Homo sapiens: one gene and its partner. The gene in region 1 interacts genetically with each later gene. Each region holds a gene or a part of one and is shown in the gene's direction. Other genes may lie near its edges.

The links.
Region 2: changes in PPME1 (region 1) and TMEM165 are lethal when combined (synthetic lethality), as found in Homo sapiens cells (one study listed by BioGRID).

The regions. Positions count from the first base shown.
Region 1 is NC_000011.10:74,244,273-74,251,297, forward strand, and holds part of PPME1 (protein phosphatase methylesterase 1), read left to right. Parts: exon of another isoform or gene 1-1,223; intron 1,224-1,761; coding exon of another isoform or gene 1,762-1,803; coding exon 1,804-1,933; intron 1,934-2,806; coding exon 2,807-2,851; intron 2,852-5,873; exon of another isoform or gene 5,874-6,050; intron 6,051-6,681; coding exon 6,682-6,746; coding exon of another isoform or gene 6,747-6,986; exon of another isoform or gene 6,987-7,025. UniProt on the Homo sapiens protein: Demethylates proteins that have been reversibly carboxymethylated. Demethylates PPP2CB (in vitro) and PPP2CA. Binding to PPP2CA displaces the manganese ion and inactivates the enzyme.
Region 2 is NC_000004.12:55,392,122-55,398,973, forward strand, and holds the start of TMEM165 (putative divalent cation/proton antiporter TMEM165 precursor), read left to right. Parts: upstream 1-3,835; 5' UTR 3,836-4,068; coding exon 4,069-4,275; intron 4,276-4,997; exon of another isoform or gene 4,998-5,150; intron 5,151-6,852. UniProt on the Homo sapiens protein: Putative divalent cation:proton antiporter that exchanges calcium or manganese ions for protons across the Golgi membrane.

The DNA.
Region 1 (7,025 bases):
TGGATATGTACCCAGAAGTGGGATTCCTGGATCATACAGTAGTTCTGTTTTTAATATTTTGAGGAACTGCCTTGATGTTTTTCTTATTGGTTGAACTATTTTACAACTCAGTACACAAGGGTTCCTTCCGAATTCTCCACATCCTCACCAACACTTATTTTTCTCTTTTTTGATAGTAGTCATCCTAATGGGGGTGAGGTGGTATCTCATTGTGGTGTTGCTGTGCATTTATTTATTGATTAGTGATGTTAAGCATCGTTTCATATGCTTATTGGCCACTTCTGTATCACCTCTAGAGAAATGTCTATTCAAGCCCTTTGACCATTTTTTAATCAGGTTACTCGATGTTTTTAGTTGCTGAATTGTAGGAGTCCTTTATATATTCTGAATATTAATCCATTATAAGATATATGATTTGCAAAGATTTTCTCCCATTCCATACACATAGTACCATTTGTCTATTTTTGCTTTTGTTCACTGCTTTTTGGTGTCATATCCAAGAAATCATTACCAAGTCTACTGTCCAGCTTTTCCTCCATGTTTTCTTCTAGGAGTTTTATAGTCTTAGTCTTACTAGGTCTTTAATCCATTTGAGTTAATTTTTGGATATGGGATAAGGCCCCAGCTTCACTTTGGAATATGCATATCTGTTTGGTTATCCCAGTACTGTTTGTTGAAGAGACTGTTCTTTCCCCATTGAGTGGTCTTGGCAGTCTTGTCAAAAATCATTTGACTATTTATGTGAAGGTTTATTTTTGGGCTCTCTATTCTATTCCACTGGTCTATTTGTCTTTACGGCAGTACTAAGCTGTTTCAATTACTGCAGCTTTGTAATTGGGGAGTGTGAGTTCTCCAATTTTGTTCTTCTTCAAAATTGTTTTGGCTAGTCAGTGTCTATGAGATTCCATATGAATTTTAAGGTGATTTTTTTTATTTCCTAAAAAAAAAAGCCATGGGAATTTTGATAGAGATTATATTGAATCTGTGGATTACTTTGGGTAGTATGGACATCTTAAGCATCCAGTGATCTTTAAGATAATATGTTACTATCTCATGTTCACTTTTAGATTTTCATATTGTGGTTGATTCAGTATATTTATTTCAATTATAATGTTTCAAATATTTCAATGGTACAGAAAAATATAGAGAATTATTTATTTTTTCAGCCAATATTTGATTGCATACTCTGTGCTTATCTACAATAAAGATTTAATAAATGTTGACATTTTGTCATATTTGTCTCATATTTCCTTTCAAAATTACTATTGCAGGAACATTATATCATTATCATAAAATATAAGAAAAAATGCTCTACTGACAAATCAACCTATTTTCAGTTTTCCTTTTTAGTACTTTACTATACCACATTTTTCCAGTAGTAATCCTAACTTAGATGACATGTTGTAATCTGTTTCTTGCTTATATTATAAGCATTTTTTCATACTGCAGTATGTTCTTTGTAGTTATTCTTTTGATGAAACATCCTTTTGCCAACCAAGTATAAGAAAGGCTTAATCTTGGCACTACCACTTACTAGCTTTGTGATCTTAAGAAAGTTTCCTAAATTCACAGAAACTAATAGCAATAAAAAGTAAACTTGTAATTATCTTAAAATGAATATTAACAGTGACCCATACAACAAGACTGTTGGAAGGATTGAATGTATATTAAAATGTCTAGGACTTAGTAGGTCCTTAATAAGTGCTAGTTTCCTTCCCTTTCCTTTTCCCAGGGATCTAGTTTTTAATCCTGTTCCTCCAGGGGTTGCCCTCGGAGACTCAGAACTTGCTCTTATTCCTCCAGACCAAGAAAGACCATCCATACACCTGGAGAATTGAACTGGCAAAAACAGAAAAATACTGGGACGGCTGGTTCCGAGGCTTATCCAATCTCTTTCTTAGTTGTCCCATTCCTAAATTGCTGCTCTTGGCTGGTAAGTGTATATGTGCATATATTAGTCAGCTCAGGCTGCCATAACCAAATATCATAGACTGAGTGGCTTAAACAACAGAAATTTATTTTCTCACAGTTCTGGAGGCTGGAAGTCTGAGATCAGGGTGCCAGCATGGTCAGGTTGTGGTGAGGGCTGTCTTCCTGGCTTGCCTTCTCTCTGTGCCCTCACATGGCCGAGAAAGAGTGAATGTGAGCTCTCTGGTGTCTCTTCTCTTAAGGATATTAATTAGGGACGTTCATCCTATCATGTCAGAGCTCTGCCCTCATGACCTGAGGTTACGTCCTTATAGGCCCTAGTTCCAAATACAGTCACATTGGGAATTGGGGCTTCAACATGAGTTTTAGGGGGACACAACTCAGTCCATAGCAGTGTTGGTATATTGTCATCTCAATATGACCTCATTAAAACTTCTCACCAAATGAGTAGTGACATCCAAAGTAGAGTACCTTCCTCATTCATCTATGCCTTTTCTCCTCCCCACACCCAGTCTCTAAACCTAACTAAGCATAAGCATTCATCTAAGCATAAAGGATGACCTAATTCTGGCCTGGCCTGTCTACTTGGTCAAGCTCAAGTCCTTCTTAGTCTAGAGCTAGATGCAGTGGTATAAGGATATTCTGATTATTATGAGAATTAAAATAGTAAAACCTTGTTTTCAGAACCAGTTTAACATAGTAATTATAGGGGAATCTCAACCTGAAAAGTTTTATCTGGTGGTGAGAGTATGCTCTGGGAGTTAGGATTGGTATAAACATGAATGGAGAATGTCATCATATTTAAAACTTTGTAACACTTTTTACTTAATACGTGAACAGCAAAATCTGTTTCACAATGAATTCTCTTGTTTTCTAGGTGTTGATAGATTGGATAAAGATCTGACCATTGGCCAGATGCAAGGTAAGTTATCAAGAAATTATACCCCTGGACCCTTTTCTGAAGAAAGGGTGATAGGGCAGTTAACATCCTGAGATAGTGAGGTATAACGGAGAAAGCATGAGCTTTAGAGTCCGACCCAAGTTGGACATCCGCCTCTACTCCTAACACACTATATGATTATGGGCAAGTATTTCCCTTTCCTGAGCTTTAATTTGTTTAAAAAAAAATCCATCCAAAAATGAAGATTATAATACTACTACCTATGTCTCAGTTATAAGAGTTAAAATGAGGCAATGTGTTTAAAAATTATAAAGTACTGTATAGGTGTATGATACTGTGAAAAGAGATATTCTGACTACTGATCAGTTTTTTGTTTGTGGGTTTTTTTTTTTTTTTTTTTTTTGAATTGGAGTCTCACTCTGTTGCCCAGGCTGGAGTGCGGTGGGACCAATCTCGGCTCACTGCAACCTCTACCTCCCAGGTTGAAGCAGTTCCGGGCCTCACCCACCCCAGTAGTGGGATTACAGGCATGCACCACCACGCCCAGCTAATTTTTGTATTTTTAGTAGAGATGGAGTTTCACCATTTTGGCCAGGCTGGTCTCAAGCTCCTGACCTCAAGTGATCCACCTGCCTTGGCCTCCCAGAGTGCGAAGATTATAGGTGTGAGCCACTGCAGCTGGCCAGTATTTTTCTTATTGTTAGAAGTTTTAGGAAAGGGAAAGGCTCAAGATAATCCAGATATAAAAAGGTATAAATACCTGTTTAGAAGACAGCATGGTAAGATGGTAAAAGTAAGGTCTCTGAAGTTCGGAAAACTGAGTTTTGAATACTGCTTTTCCAGTAATTTTTTGACTCTGGGCAAGTTATCTGACTTGCCTCAGCTTTAGTCTTCTTAATCTGGAAAATGAAAAAACTGATGGCAGCCTCAAACAGATCGTGGGGTATAATGAGTAGGAAAGTGACATGCTGAGCACTGTATACAGATGCATGTATGTTAGCTAGATAACAGTGGAGGCAGCGGGTCCAATTTTGTGGGGGCTCTTGCTTTAGTACGGGTAAAAGACTCAGTGAAGGTGAAGCCAGTAGGCATACAACTTTTGGGTTATGGGAAGAAGAGGTGCCAACTCCAAGACCAAAGTTTCAGGCTCAGGCAGAATCTGTTCTAGACCTTTCTTCCCTACTTACTCTCCCTGGACAATTTCATGGCTTCCATTTATATATTGATGACTCCCAAAGCTAAACATCCACCTCACCCCTCTCTCCTGAGATCCAGTCCTAGCCTATGTAGCAAACCTGCTGGATATCTCATGGGCCTCTCAAACTGTTCTTTTAGCTATCCTCAAGCTTTCCACAGCAAAAGGAGCTATATTCTCTCATAATAGTTGTTCAAAGGCTCTCACATATAAAACTCTGGTCCCAGACCTTCATGGCTTTGCCTTCCTTTAACTACATTGTATCCTGAGGCCTAGAATAGGACTATGAGCTGGGACTGTGTGATTTTTTTTCCATGGCACTGATGTTGGTAATTATGGGCTTAGACACTTATTTAAGTAGATGCTTATAAATGTCTAAGCCCGTAATTACCAACATGAGTGCCATGAAATTGAATCTAAGACACTTAAGTTCAATTCAAGAAACCTTTCCTAGGCACCCTTTCTGTGCAAGACCTATGCATGATGCTGGGCAGACAGAAGAATCAGATATGGCCCCTGAGACTGCCTGAAGGCAGTTGACATGGACTGGGATAGCATTTGAAATCATTGTTGATCACCAGCCTTGGAATCAGACAATCCTGGGTTTGAATCACTGTTAATAGTTTTGCGGTATGAGTGAATTCCTAACTTATTTAATTTTGAGTTTCTTCATCTGTGAAATGGAGATAATGATATATCTCAGTACAGTTACATGAAGTTTAAATGAAAAAAATGCGGGTAGTCTAACAAATGATGCCTTTCATTATATTCAGGAAGTAATCACGATTCCTTATGAGATGTCCTCCTGTTTCCTCAATATGGATTATATCAAGACCACCTTCTGGTTTAAAGAAAGCCTCCTATGAGTATAGAGAGTAAATGGCGAGGATAAGGAACATTCCACAGAACAAAGGGAAATGGCTAAGGCTGCATAGATTCCAAACCACAGCTTTGCCAGCACTGTGTTCAAACCAACTGACTTAGTTATGAAATCCTGGAAAACTACCACCTATTCATAGTACCCCTTGGGTAAATAATTTAGGCTCTCTGAACCTAAGGCTCCTAATCTGTGCAATGGGAGAGAAGAGTTTGGAAATATTCCCACCTCATAGAATAATCATGAGGATTACCCATGAACATGTTATTTTATGTGTACCTGGCACAGTGTTGTTGGTGTATGTGAGTTCTCTCTGATTATACCTACTCTTCCAAAGAGGAAGGACAAATGCGTCCCTAGTCATCAGAGCTGATCTAACAGAAAGAACAGGGAGATTGGAGTTGTAAGTTTTGGATCTAGTCATTTGTTCATCATTCATTCGCTAAAGACTTAAGCATCTACTCAGTGCCCTACCCTGTGTTAGGTCTTATTAGGGATATAGAGCAAGTAATAACACCATTGTCCCCTGTTCTTATGGAAATGACACACTCCTGGGGAGGCAAGCACCAGTGGCATGTAAAATGTAAACTTACTTGAAACTTACAAGAGGGCCATGTGCTGCTCTGTGTTTGGATCCAAGTGCATTAACAACTTTAGGAGCTAGAAGGGAGAGGTGACTAGGCTTGAGCACCCAGAGAGAGGCAGCTTACTGCAGGAGGAGGGGCACAGGATGGACTTTACTAAATGGGATCATCTTATTCCTCCACTAATTAATGAAGTGGCCTTGGGCAGGTTACTTCACTAATCATGGCCTCAGTTTCATCATCTCAGAAAAGAATTTCAGTATTTTTGTGCTTAATTGTATAGGGTAGATTTTGAGAATCAACTTTAAAAATGGATAGAAGAATACACTGAAAACTTTTGAATCCTGCGTAACTGGGGTAAGAACCACAGGATGTAATGACCAGAAGAACTTTCAAGCCCATTCCTTTATTTTATAAATAGAGAATCTGAGGCTGAGAAAATCTGCTGTCTCTACTTATGGGGGCTCTGGGTCTCATATCCTTTAGTCTCCTTAGGGATCTTCTTTATCAGTCATCGCTGTTCATTCTCAATCATTGTCGCATTAGTTACGAGCTTACAGTGTTCTGTAAGACAGTATGAGAAAGTGCTTAGTACAATGCCTGGCACATGCTTAAGTGCTCAGATGGTAACTTATTATTGTAATAATACATTTTGAATCCTTAACATAGCTTACAAAATCCTTAATGGTTTGGCCCCTGCTTACCTCTCCAGCCTTATTGTTAACCACTCTCATAAGCACCATGCCAAGCTTCTTGTATTCCAAGCCATTTCAAGCCTTCCTTCCTTCCTGGTTCCCTCTTGGATTGTGAAGTTCCCTTTCTTATGCTCTTACAGCCCCATGTAGCCAGTTTTATCATAGGAATGACATGCTGCATTAAAATGTTGGTTTTTGTGTTTTACTCCCCTACTGGACTGTAAATCCCCTGAGGACAAGAACTGTTTCTTCTATGTGTCTCTGGCCCACAGTAAATGTACACTAAATAGGACAGAAGGAAAAAGTGAAGGGAAATGATTGGCGCAAGGTTACAATTACTTGTATTACCATCCTCAGCAAGACTTGATAATTGGGTCCAGAGTATTGAGGTGAGGTTGGAAATGGGGAGGTAGGTCCTGGGCTCCTGGAATGACCTATGAGGCTGCATAAGAGAGGGCTCTTTTAGTCGCTGAAGTTGCCTTGCTTTGATTCCTCTCCAGGGAAGTTCCAGATGCAGGTCCTACCCCAGTGTGGCCATGCAGTCCATGAGGATGCCCCTGACAAGGTGAGTCTGGTGCTCAGTGACTGTAAAAGGACAACTGTGAGAATAACCCTGGATGTCACAGAAGACAAGTCTCTGAGTCTCAGCCTGCATTGCCTGCAGCAGCTGCTGTGGAGCCTATGCAGATGCAGTTCCACCAGCTCTCCAACTTCTCCCTGGCAGCTGCTTATGGTATTGGTTTTGTGTATATGTGCTGAGGAGCTACTGACACTCTGCTATTTCATCCCAGGGCCCTGTGGTTAAGATCTTAAGCTCTACTTCTCCAATACCCCCAAAAGCCAG
Region 2 (6,852 bases), on another chromosome or scaffold:
TAATTTGAGGAAAGTTCCTTGACCTAAGTCTCAGATTTCTCATTTGCAAAAAGGAGGATAGAAATAATTCATGTAACACACTTAGTGCTCTGACTGGATCAGAATAGCATTCAATAAAGTTTTACTACTACTTTAATGATAACTATTCCCATTACCTTCTTATATAATCTACTAGGTGCTAGAAATATAAAGATAAAAGGCATAACCTTACCATCTAGAAGCTTAAGGCTTAGTAAGGGTGTTGGAATAAAAGACATTAAAATACAGTGCAGGCCCGGCTCAGTGGCTCACACCTGCAATCCCAGCACTTTGGGAGGCCGAGGTGGATGGATTACTTGAGGTCAGGAGTTCGAGACCTGCCTTGCTAACATGGTGAAACCCTGTCTCTACTAAAAATACAAAAATTAGCCAGGCATGGTGGCGGGCGCCTATAGTCCCAGCTACTTTGGAGGCTGCGGCAGGAGAATCGCTTGAACCTGGGAGGTAGAGGTTGCAGTGAGCTGAGATCGCACCACTGCACTCCAGCCTGGGTGACAGAGCGAGACTCCATCTCTACATAAATAAATAAAAAATAAAATATAGGTCAGGCACAGTGGCTCATGCCTATAATCCCAGCACTTTTGGGAGGCCAAGGCGGACGGATCACGAGGTCAGGAGATCAAGACCATCCTGGCTAACATGGTAAACCCGTCTCTACTAAAAATACAAAAAATTAGTGGGGCGTGTAGCACATGCCTGTAATCCCAGCTACTCAGGAGGCTGAGGCAGGAGAATTGCTTGAACCCGGGAGGCGGAGGCTGCAGTGAGCCGAGATCTTGCCACTGCATTCCAGCCTGGGCAACAGAGCGAGACTCCACCTCAAAAATAAATAAATAAATTAATTAAATAAAATACAATGTAATGCACATGTAGTAGGGTTTCTTTCCATAGGATGCCTGACAGTGGTTACATTTTAGTAAGACTATATCGGTGTAGGCTATGATTAAAAAATATATCATCTTGGAATTGTTGCGCCACCCACATCCTTATTGGGTAGGGGGTTAAATAAGTAGCTTCAGTTGTCCTTCAAGAAAGGTATCAGGAAAGCTCCTATAGTTTTTTAATTGCTTTTTTTAAGGGAGTTAGTCACCAATGAGGACTAGAAGGATGATGGCTCTAAACCCTCAAGGTGGTGAAAACTGGAGCCAGCCTCGATTTAGCACGCCTGAGCACGGATCCCAGGAGGTAGATGTGTGTGGAAACAGAAATACCAGATCCCATGAGAATCAGACACCTAGAGCCTAGCCTGGCAGCACCTGAAGGCCCTTGGATCAGGGTGACACTGGGGCAGGCTAGAAAGGTCTCACTCTGGCCCAGATTCTGATGCTTTGCTGACACCACTGTGCCAGTTCGCCAATGCTCTATCTCCATTTATGTTACATCTTCTGCCAAATAGCTTTGCTGCCTTGCCCCTGAACCACTGCATGCTCAGCAGCTGGTGCTTCAGCATCCTGCAGCTGTAGCCCAGAAGTCCTCACTGCCTCATATGTTGAGATGACTGAATTTGGCCAGGAGTCCTTCCTGTGAGAAAGCCCTGGAGTGTGGGCAGCCCATCCTAGAAAATAAACAAAGCAGCTTTCAGCAATGAGGGACACACAGCCAGTTTTGCTACATTCACCCTTCTGGCTCTGTCTTCAGCCTAAGCTGCTCCTTTCAGGTCCCTCCCTTGGGACCTCAAGCCTCCCTTTCAGGCCCCTTTTAAGCACAGCAAATCCTGTATGCATTAAGGGGAGGTAGTTGAAGTTTGGGCTTCTGGGTTTTATGTTATTACTGGCTTCTGAAAGCTCAAACATTTGCACTCCAGGGATGATAGTTGCATCTGTTAAATTTAGTGTAAAGCTGCCTCCTTACATATTTTAAGTTAGGCCTAAAGGTTTCCCCATACATGGTGAACTGTAGCCTAATTGGGTATGTAAACAGACTGTAACCTATTCTTGTACCAATCACAGAGTTCTGGCCAATCACAAGTGGCCAACTGTTCAAACCGTGTTCAAATAGGGCAAACCTGAGCTACAACCAATCCAGCTGTTTCTGTCCCTCAATTATGTTTTCTGTAAGTCACTTTATTTTTTCCGACCACTCGGCAAGACTGGAGCCTCTCTGAACTTACTTTGATTTGGGGTCTTTTTGATTTGCAGATCATTCTTTGGGTTCTTTGCTTGATTAAACGCTGTTAAGTTTAATTTGTCTAAGGTTTTTCTTTTAACACACCCCAAACTGTAAGTGGAGGCATCCTACTTACACAGTAATAGAAGAATGCATAAAGCAATAACATGAAGGAACAAGTGACAAATTCTGTAACGCCATGTGTTGGGGAAAAGTTCTGAGAGTGGAAGCTTGAATAGGTTTTGGAAGTATGAGTAGGAGTTTACAAGGAGAGAATGGAAGAAGGGGAATTACGGACAGAATAACATGGACGGAGGCCGGCCGCGGTGGCTCACACCTGTAATCCCAGCACTTTGAGAGGACGAGGCCGGCAGATCACCTGAGGTCTGGAGTTCGAGACCAGCCTGACCAACATGGAGAAACCCCATCTCTACTAAAATTACAAAGTTAGCCGCGTATGGTGGAGCATGCCTGTAATCCCAGCTACTCGGGAAGCTGAGGCAGGAGAATCTCTTGTACCCGGGAGGAGGAGGTTGCAGTGGGCCGAGATCTCACCATTGCACTCCATCCTGAGCAACAAGCGCGAAACTCCGTCTCAAAAACAAAAACAAAGAAAACAACAAAACAAAAAAACAGACGGAAATTTTATTATCCTGTGACAAACACTGTATCTTTGGTGAACTCAAAGTAGGTTTGCCCACTTTCCCACAGATTGTTTTGGTGGATTAATTTTTTGTTTCAGTTAGTGATAAACTTCCTTAGCTCTTTACTGAGTACAGGTTTACTGTATGTAAATATGTATAATATTAGATTAGTGCCTGGCACATGGTTAGCACTATCGATTTTTATTAGGGACTAGGTCTCAAACTTATGGTAATTAAGTAGCTCACTTTTTCTTTTGGGAAGACGTAAAAATATTCTCAAGCCTAACTCAAGACCATCCTTTCCTGTCTTCTAGTCTTGCCCACTCAAAGCTCCATCCTGCAAAAGTCTTAAACAGTCCATTTCAAAAGCCCAGCATTTTTAAAGGGTCTAAGGAATAGCACAAAACAAGATGCACCCAAAACGTCAAGGCCATACTGGACAAGGGCAACGTTAGCCATTTTTGGTCTGGGGTAATTATAGGCAGTATCTTAAAACAAGGCTTGAAAAATGTCATGTTATTTCCAAATCCCATTTCAGAACTTTAAAAAAAAAATAGCATTTTGAGCTCCTAAGAACGTTTTTGGCGGTAGGTGGCCACATGGAGGGTGGCACAGAGGCTCGGCGGGGGAGAGCGGAACAGAGCTGGGCGTGGCAGTGCCTGCGAGTCAGCGCCACGTAACCAGAGGCGCTCGCACTAATTTGACCTCTAAGAGAGACTAAGCGCAGGGAACAGCGGGTGCGGACATTACGGCGGAAGGCTCTGGAGGAAGCAGAAGTGAAGGACCTCGCAGTCCTGGGACGGTGGGGCACAGAGAGAGAAAGGGAGCCCCGGGCGCGGCGCGGTGAGGATGCGAGCAGAGGAAGGACACGCGGCGCCGGGTACCTGCCGGGAGCGCCGGATCCAATGGGAGGAGGGCCCGCGCCGCACCTCAACCTGGCAGAGGACGTCACGACGCCAAGGCGGTCGCCGGGCCAATGGGAGGCCGTCGCGGGCAGGGACGGGGCCGGGAGGAGTCGGGGCTGGGCCGCGCCGAGGCAGCTGGCTGACTCCAGTTTAGCCGCCGCCGGAGAGGACGGGCGCCGAGCCGGGGCTGCGGACTTCGGCCTGCCCCTCACCTCACTCCCGCTGCTTGCACCTCCCGGATGGTGCTGACTGCTCCCTAAGCGGCGGCGGCGGCGAGTCGTGAGGACGCGCCGCGGAGGCTGTTCGGGGTCGAGGCTTCCCGTCGCCGGCACTTCCTCTTGCGGCGCCCGTGCGCGGCCGGCCCGGCAGGCGGGATGGCGGCCGCGGCTCCAGGGAACGGCCGCGCATCGGCGCCCCGGCTGCTTCTGCTCTTTCTGGTTCCGCTGCTGTGGGCCCCGGCTGCGGTCCGGGCCGGCCCAGATGAAGACCTTAGCCACCGGAACAAAGAACCGCCGGCGCCGGCCCAGCAGCTGCAGCCGCAGCCTGTGGCTGTGCAGGGCCCCGAGCCGGCCCGGGTCGAGGTGAGCGGGCCGGGATGGGGCGAGCGAGGCTGCAGGGCCGGCTGCGCCGAGTACCAGGCTCCAGGCCTTTGAAAGCGCCGCACTCCGCCGGCCTCGGCTGGGGGAGGGGAGCCCGGCCCCTGCTCCCGGGGTGGAGGGCGGTCGGCTGCGCTGTTTTCCGGTGAGGCCTGGTCTTGCCCGCTCCTTTAGGGAAAGGGAGAGGGAGAGTCCAAGAGGAGCCCGCTATAAACGTTGATCTCCGGAGGGCCAAGATGCTGCTCCGGGATGGGCGTTTTATTGATCAGATGTGTCTTAGAGTAGCTAGAAAGACTCATCCCTACCAAAAAGTTTTTAACAGAAGGCTGCTAGGAGGCTTTTTGTATTCCCTGAGGATCATCACATCGGCCATTTCATTGTTGAAATAGCTTATGCCAAACTGCTTACCCAAATTCAACTTGGCACTGCCTGTGCTTTTTGCCAAATATGGATTATGAACCATGACTCTCACTTTTTAAAAATGTGCTTTGGCTAGCAGGAAGTAGCCTTTAGGAACGCAGAGGAATTAGTCTCCGGCAGTACAGCGTGCTGCAGCGATGTGGGATGCCAAAACTACATTTATAAGTAAAACAGAATCCTGTATTTTGTCCTTCCCTGAATAGATACTAGAAATCAACTTTTTAATCTGTTAATAGAATTAGTCCTTAGTCACTTGGCAGCGTTTTAACATTTCTCCCTTCTCCCAGTCGTGGGCTTTGTCGTCATTTCCAGTATCTGCTCCCTGAATCCCGGCCAGTGTGGCACTCAAACCCCCACTCCCACCCAGGCCACATCCAGCCCATCTCCACGTAACTAATCTTCCCGAACATTGAATTCTGCCATCTTGTCAGAAGTCGTCGGTGAGTTGCCTCCACTAATTTCAGTCCAGCCTTTTTAGGAGAGTGATGTTCAGGTTTCTTCTGATCTGGCTCCAGCTCACCTCCAGGCTTTTTAGCCACCGCTTTCTTGCTCATATGCTAAAGGGATATGCTCATCTGCAAAAAAGAATGTGCTTCAAGAGCCCTTTGGGACAGGCTTTGTGCTCTCTTGCCAGTTCCTCCCTAACACAAGACCTTTTCAAAGAAAAAAAAAAAAAGACCTGGAGTTTGAAGCCACGGATCAACTCTTCCCACCTTGGAGAACCAGCAGATACCTACTCTCTGTGAAGACTTCCCTAAAATTTCTTGGTTAAGGGTGATTTATCTGACCCTTTCCTTTCCTTTCCTTTCCTCTCCTTTCTCCTTTTTCCTTTCCTCTCCTTTCTCCTTTTTCCTTTCCATTCCTTTCATTTCTCCTTTCCTTTCCTTTTTCCTTTCCTTTCTCCCTTCCTTTCCTTTTTCCTTTTTCTTTGTTGAGACAGGGTCTCGCTCTGTCGCCCAGGCTGGAGTGCAGTGGCCCCGTCTTGGCTCACTGCAACCTCTAATTGATCCTCCCACCTCAGCCTCCTGAGTGGCTGGGACTGCATGCGTGTGCTGACACGCCCGGCTAATTTTTGTTTATTTTTTTTTTTTTTGAGAGAGGAGGTCTCACTATGTTGCCGAGTCTAGTCTCAAACTCCTGGGCTCAAGCGCTTCTCCGGCCTTGGCCTCCCAAGTGCTGGTGAGCTCTCACACCGGTGCATTGTTTTCGTGTTTCATGTTTTCGTTACATGTTACTTTCTTAGGCTTTTCCAATTTTCTGTTGTTTTTCTGTGTAAGACCGTAGGATAGAACTTTCTGAGAGACTGATCTTGGTTTCACTAAGCAAGAACATTTGTAAGAATCAGTGCTGTCCCAGATGTAGTAATCGCTATTGAGAAATAATGAAGTTCCCCTTACTGGAAGTACTCAGGAAGAAGTTGAATAACTAACTGCCTATGAGGAGATTCTGATATGGGAGGGAATCTGGGAGATAAAGTTACTGGGAAGTGAAGATTCTGGGAGCCGATTTAATCCTCACAACAGCACGTTAAACAGGTAGAGGAGGTTTGTAAGGAATAGTGGTTTAATATCACAGAGCTAGAAGCTAGTTTCAGCAGAACCAGAATTAGAATCTGGACTTCTGTGCCTTACTAAGTTTTATTAGCATTCATTGTGTCTTACTCTTTTGACTTATTTAATTCACTAATGGATTTTAATGGTTTATTGGATTGTATGCTGGTGCAGTTCTTTGATCTTGAGCCTAGCTTTCTCTTTCTCCTTTTTTGGGAACTTTATTGTGTATGTTGTGGCATGTTTACACACACATCTTGCTGCCTTGGGTTCTTGCAAGTTGTGTGCGTGTTTTATCTGCCCCTACTAGCTTTTAGGTGTCTTGAGAGCATGACTCTGGCTTACTCATCTGTCTATTCCAGAAGACCTTGTCTGTTCTTGGCATTTATTAACTAATTTTCTAAGACTGGGTTGAAGTAGTTGCATGTCAAGTTTATATCAGCTGTTAAATACCTTTCTGGAAAAACTGGCTGTAAAATAAACTCAACCAGGAAAAAAAAAAAAAAACAACAACCCGATTTTTAATAGTGTCTATCCAACCTTTTTTTTTTAAGTTGCAAGGGATCCACCAGATGGAATTAAGAGAACTAAG